Homo sapiens: one gene and its partner. The protein of the gene in region 1 purifies or fractionates together with the protein of each later gene. This does not show direct contact. Each region holds a gene or a part of one and is shown on either strand. Other genes may lie near its edges.

Region 1 (3,500 bases):
ACCTCTGCCTCCTGGGTTGAAGCGATTCTTTTGACTCAACCTCCTGAGTAGCTGGGATTACAGGCATGTGCCACCATGCCCGGCTAATTTTTTTTTGTATTTTTAGTAGAGACAGGGTTTCGCCATATCAGCCAGGCTGGTCTCGAATTCCTGACCTTGTGATCCGCCCGCCTCAGCCTCCCAAAGTGCTGGAATTACAGGCGTGAGCCACCGCACCTGGCGTATTTTTTTAGGGAGTCAAATCCTACACCTAGGCTGGGTGCTGTGGCTCACGCCTGAAATCCCAGCACTTTGGGAGGCCAAGGTGGGCAGATCACTTGAGGTCAGGAGTTTGAGACCAGCCTGGCCAACATGGTGAAACCCCATCTCTACTAAAAATACAAAAATTAGCCGGGCGTGGTGGGGCATGCCTGTAATCCCAGCTACTCGAAAGGCTGAGGTGGGAGAACTGCTTGAACCTGGAAGGTGGAGGTTGCAGTGAGCTGAGATCATGCCATTGCGCTCCAGCCTGGGCAACAGAGCAAGACTCCATCTCAAAAAAAAAAAAAAAAAAGTTATACCTAGAATTTTGACTGCATACGGGGGTTGGCACTCCTAGCCCCTGTGTTGTTCAAGGGTCAACTGTAACTATAAGAAATTCTAGCTTATGTGCTACATGTAAACGATTAGTTAGAATGAGAACTGGAAACTTGCCATGTACACAGTAAGCATGAATTTTAAATATCCTCTTGAAGCACAGAGATTAAAATTATAGCTAATGTTTTACCAAACACCATACCATTAACTGTATTATTTGGCTCCTTAATGAATATGCATAATGACAACAAATTATTTTTATATTAAAGATGAATTCAAAGAATCTAAAAAGTTACTAATTTCCAAGGGAAATACTTTTCATTTCAACACTAATTTTCTTTTTCTTTTTTTTTTTGAGATGGAGTCTCGCACTGTCACCCAGGCTGGAGTGCAGTGGCGCGATCCTGGCTCACTGCAAACTCCGCTTCCCGGGTTCACACCATTCTCCTGCCTCAGCCTCCCAAGTAGCTGGGACTACAGGCGCCCGCCACAACACCCGGCTAATTCTTTGTATTTTTAGTAGAGACGGGGTTTCACTGTGTTAGCCAGGATGGTCTCGATCTCCTGACCTCGTGATCCACCCACCTCAGCCACCCAAAGTGCTGGGATTACAGACGTGAGCCACCGCGCCTGGCCTCAACATTAATTTTCAAAAGATAAGATAAAATATTGCTTCCTCCTTCCATAATGGAACGTGACAGTGATTACGGTAGTAGTTAAAAGGAACTGTAATTTTAAAAACAGAGAATCATGAGACTAATACAAATGAAATTCATTCCTGATTCTGCCCTGCTATGAGCATGAGTGATATAACATGTGTTTGCCTGTTTCATAGCTTTAGCTTCAAGGGGTATGATAAAGATGAAGTAATGTTTACAATATAAGTTAGAACTTCTTTTGACTTCTTTTAAAAGGTAGTATGGGATAAGATTCTGGAAACCTGGGTCTAGTCCTAGTTTTACCACTGATTTGCTGGTATCATCTTGAGCAGTCATTTAAATGACTTTGTCCTTGTTTTTCTAAAAAGGTATACGCCTTTTTTACAGATGGCATATAAAATCATTTAATCATTTTTGTATGCCATCTGTAAAAAAGGCATATACCCACCTTACATACCCTAGAGAGTTGTAGAGAAGACCAAATAATTTTACTTGGAAGTACTAAAAGAGTTTAAAAAGTTGTACAATAATATTTATCAATTAGATGACATTAGTAAGATAATCAGAAAATCCAGCTAGAGCTCCAAACCAATCAAAGAAAATGAGGTTTGAAAACAAATATCCATTCACATTATCTTGTCTAAATAAAAGAATGACTAATTTAGAGGAGAAGCAAGACAAGTTGTGTGATGAAATTAATATGCCTGTGACCACCCAAAGTGAGACAAGTCTGATGGGTGTAGAATATTTGAGCCTAACAGACTCAACAGAGTTAACAGAGAGTTAGCTGTTATGCAGTGACCTGGCAGCACGACAATATTTCTGAAAATCACACAGCAATAAACTGTCACATGCAGATTGAGAGTGCAAAACAAAGCATATTATAAGAAAATAGTAATAATGCTGTAAAAGACAAGACTAGAATTATGACATCAATTTAATCAATTCTGACCATTAGACCAGTTATTTTACCACTTGTCTACACTATTAAGCAATAATTTTTGTGATATAACCATTTTCGTGTAACAAAACGCTGCAAAAACCTATATGAAAAATCAATACACCCCTCAAGAAAAAAAGCCAAAGTAAATGAAGGGGCATCCAACATGGTTTTATGTAGACACAGTATGTCATAATCTGACTATTTGAGAAACAACATAAGGCTACTTATGAGAAAAAAGAAAAAATATATAATAAGATGGCATGAATTAGGATCTTCTTAAGAAAAAAAGACTAGTGGAGAGACATAAACTGGAGCCAAGAATGAAGTTAATGAGGCATAGAGCACATTTGTTATGGGTGGGCCACAAATTTGGCTCTAAGCTTTTTGGCATCTGGCCAGAGAAAGGTAAACATTCACAATGTCCATAAGACAAAAACAAAGCAATTGCTCAGGAGAGGTAAAATAATTCTTTGTATTATAGTCCGATAGTTTTTTCTCAAGAGATTTTCATAAAAGACATGGTGCATCATAACAAATAGTGCCTCACAGTATCCTTACAACAGATGAAACAGACAGGATTGTTTCCTATAATAATCTTTACTATCTAGCCTTATGGCAAATGGGCACAGATCAATCAAACAAAAGCAATTTGACAGAGTTTAGGTAATCAGCTTGTCGATGTGACTTGATGTAAGAGTTTATAATATAAAGGCAGAATGACTGCTCCCTGGCTACAGCATCTGTCTCTCATGTCTTCAATAAACACTGCATACTTGTGAGTGCCAGGTCATATAGCTTGGCAAAAACCCGGAGACCTACTCTCTACACTGCCTGCTGAAATCACACCCAGTCTTCAACACCAACCCAACTAGGGAAAGGAACCTGCAAGAAGACTGCCTCAACAGTCAGTCATCTCTCACCTTGAAGGGAATGTCCACAAGCTGGGCTAAGATTTTCTTCAGAAATAGTTTTTGTGTTTTGTCTGTTTGATTTTTAAAATACCAAGCACATAGACAAAATGTTAATCAAGGCCTTAATTCTGTTCCATACAGCATGACAGCAAGTTTAACTCCAAAAATTCTAATGCAAATAGAACTCAACTAGCCTTTAGCCAAACCCACCCTTTGCCAAAAATAACTCTAAACTTCGTATTTGAAGACTTAAATTTTAGATTCAATTCTGTTACTCATTGGCTGTGTGATCATAAATAAATTACTAAATTTCCTTAACTCTCACTTTCCTTTTCTGTAAAGTGAAAATATTTTCTATTTTTATTTTTTATAGTCCAGAGTTTTTTTTTTTTTAACACCTACCAGCAGCCC
Region 2 (3,500 bases), on another chromosome or scaffold:
CCAACAAGGTGAAACCCCATCTCTACTAAAAGTGCAAAAATTAGCCAGGTGTGGTGGTGCAGGCTTGTAATCCCAGCTACTCTGGAGGCTGAGGCACGAGAATTGCTTGAACCCAGGAGGCAGAGGTTGTAGTCAGCTGAGATCATGCCACTGCACTCCAGCCTGGGTGACAGAGTGAGACTCTGTCTTAAAAAATAAAAAAATGGAATAAAAGAGTAACAGAACAGCTTCTTTTAGTTGTCTTACAAATTCTTTTTTCCTTCATACTGCCCGGGCACCCTGATGGTCATGGATGTGTCACTGATGGGCTGCAGAAATGAATGTTTACAAGTACCGAATTTAACTGTGCTGATGTATACTTATAGAATAAAGACCTCTTTTAAAATATAAATGGCACTTTAACAAAAGTTTTAAAATTCCTTTTTGAAACCAAAGTTCCTTGATTCCAGATTTTACTGAAGAGACTGCTCTAAGGTGATCAGTGAGTCTCCACTGTGTCTGAGAGTTCAGGCTTTGGTGTTTGCCTGCACAAGTTCAAAGATGGGCCCCGTTATTAGCTAGGAATAAGAGCTTAGGCAAATTGTTTGGTCTCTTTTCTCTGAAGATTGTGAAATGTGGGTAATCATTTTGAACACTTAACCCTCAAGATAAGCTGGTATTGATAATGATTTCTGTTTTTATTAATAATGATTTGTGTTTTTATTAAGAGTGTTTATGATCTCTTTACAGACAGAGCTCATAATGGATGCTATCCATAAACAAAAGAGCTTACAATTCAAGAAAACCATGGATGTGAGTCACATTTTATTGTCTTTTTTGGGATAATGGTGACATTTTCTGAAATCCTGTGCTGTGTATGAACATATTCCTACTCAAATAACATTTCAAAAATGTTATTATTTATTAGTGCAGTGTTTTAGGGAAAACAACCTTAAATGCTTTGGGTTTTCTTTTTTGTTGTTGTTGTACATATTATTACATTACCCAGAGATTAAGTTCAGTACCCAATAGTTATCTTTTCTGCTCCTCTCCCTCCTCTCACCCTCCCTCTCAATTAGACCCCAGTGTCTGTTATTTCCTTCTTTATATTCATAAGTTCTTATCATTTAGCTCCCACTTATAAGTGAGAACATGTGGTATTTGGTTTTCTGTTCCTGCATTAGTTTGCTAAGGATGATAGCCTCCAGTTCTATCCATGTTTCCTCAAAAGACATGATTTCATTCTTTTTTATGGTTGCATAGTATTCCATGGTGTATATGTACCACATATTCTTTATCCAGTCTGTCATTGATTGGCATTTAGGTTGATTCCGTGTCTTTGCTATTATGAACAGTGCTGCAATGAACATTCACGTGCATGTGTCTTTAGGGTAGAATGCTTTATATTCCTCTGGGTGTATACCCAGTAATGGGATTGCTGGGTCAAATGGTAGTTCTGCTTTTAGTTCTTTGAGGAATCTCCATACTGCTTTCCACAATGGTTGAACCAATTTATACTCCCACCAACAGTGTATAAGGTTTTTCTTTTTTTAAGGCCTTGGAAAGATTGAAAGTGACACTAGATAGTGGAAATGCAACAGGGTTATCTTTCTGGTAACCCGAGAAAATATAGCAAGTCAGTTCAAATATTTTAGGCAAAGATACAAAAACATATATAGTGTACAATACCCTTTATCTTATAGAATTTGCAATTTTACCCTGTTACTATTTTGAATCTTGATTGCTTACCTATTTTATTGAGTGATCCCTTTCTGTTTTAAGATATCTGAAAATTATAAAAACTTTTCCTTTAAGTAATTTATTTAAAAAATGTTGGCAAGACAGAGATTGGACAAGTTGCTAGAAATCTCTCTCTAGCTTTTATGTATCTGTTGACTCTGGATACAACAAACTCTGTTATTAGAACATATATGACTCCATCTTGACACCGAAGTATCATCATGATATTCTACGAGTAGGATGTAATAGGGAAGTGTCACCAGTGTTGATAGCATATGCAATCTGTTCTGCTGCATTCTTTTTCTCCTTGATGCAGAAATCCCTCAAAAACAATTGATAAATAGGGAATGATGTCAGTGTAATACAGAAATAGTGTTAGTTGATAGATGATTTTTCCCAGACCTTTTATATTTTAAACAATCTGGGGCAAGATTTTTTATAATTAAAGAGAAAGGCTTATCAAAATATAACTTTCTGGCTGGGTATAGTGGCTCACACCTGTAATCCCAGCACTTCGGGAGGCCGAGGCAGGTGGATCACCTGAGGTCAGGAGTTCGAGACCAGCCTGGCCAACATGGCAAAACCGCGACTCTACTAAAAATACAAAAAAAAAAAAAATTAGCTGGGTGTGGTGGTGTGCACCTGTAATCCCAGCTACTTGGGAAGTTGAGGCAGGAGAATCGCTTGAACCCAGGAGGTGGAGGTTGCGGTGAGCCGAGATCGCACTATTGCATACTCCAGCCTGGGCAACAAGAGTGAAACTCTGTCTCAAAAAAAAAAAAAAAAACTCTGAAAGGGGGAGAGAAGAAGGCACACTGGCTAGTGACCTTGGACTCAAAGAACAACCTGACAAGGGTTCCCTGGGCTTTCTTTTTGCCTCATTTATCACAGACTGAGTGCCAAAGAAGCAGGCATCCCAGAAATGCCAATGGTCATAGACCAAAAATTAAAAAAATAAAAAAAATAAATAAAAAGCTCCAAGAAAAACCTGTTCTCTCTAACCAAAAGACCAGAAAAGGGGCAGCCTAGCAGGACAGAAACTTTAGAAAATAACCATTCTACTGCAGCCAAACACCACGTAAAAAACCTGGGGACCCACCTCCACACATCAGCAAAGGCCAAGTGGAGAGTCTAAACTTCCACCACACCAGGCTGTAGAGAGCACCCAACTCCCCTGCCAAGGTGGCAACAGAGAACAAATAGGGGACCAGGACTTTCACTCCCACCAGGAGGTAACAGAGCCTCCTCTACACAGTGTTATTGGGAGCTATGTGGGGAACCCTGACTTCCACCTGCACCGGGAAATAATGATGTACACCCTCTCCCTCCTGGGATGGTGTCTAAGGAGGTCTAGTGGAGAGTGAGAACTTTAACCACTTTCCAGTAGTAACTGGGTCACACACACTCTGTGGTGTCAGTGGAGACCAAGGAGGGGAAACCTGGACTTTCACACTCACATGACAGTAATGAGATGATGCCTCACCTTCCCCTGCTGGAGTGGTGTCCTGAGGAAGCTAGCTAAAACAGAAGCCTTAAATAAAATCCAGAGTCTTGTAACATAATACCAAAAATTCCCCCAAATCAATCAAATATCACTCTTCATACCAGAAAGATACGAAACTCCATGAAAAGAAAGACAATCAATAGCTGCCAAGATCTAGATAACAGAGATGTTGGAATTATGTGACGAAGATTTTACAGCATCCACTATCAAAATATTCAGCAAGCAATTACAAAGACACTTTTTTTGAGATGGGGGGGTCTCACAATGTTGCCCAGGC

The links. The genes of interacting proteins can lie anywhere in the genome.
Region 2: the proteins of SENP8 (region 1) and PSTPIP2 fractionate together in Homo sapiens (co-fractionation; one large-scale study listed by BioGRID). This does not show direct contact.

The regions. Positions count from the first base shown.
Region 1 is NC_000015.10:72,135,403-72,138,902, reverse strand, and holds part of SENP8 (sentrin-specific protease 8), read right to left. Parts: intron 1-3,500. UniProt on the Homo sapiens protein: Protease that catalyzes two essential functions in the NEDD8 pathway: processing of full-length NEDD8 to its mature form and deconjugation of NEDD8 from targeted proteins such as cullins or p53.
Region 2 is NC_000018.10:46,002,761-46,006,260, reverse strand, and holds part of PSTPIP2 (proline-serine-threonine phosphatase-interacting protein 2), read left to right. Parts: intron 1-729; coding exon 730-792; intron 793-3,500. UniProt on the Homo sapiens protein: Binds to F-actin. May be involved in regulation of the actin cytoskeleton.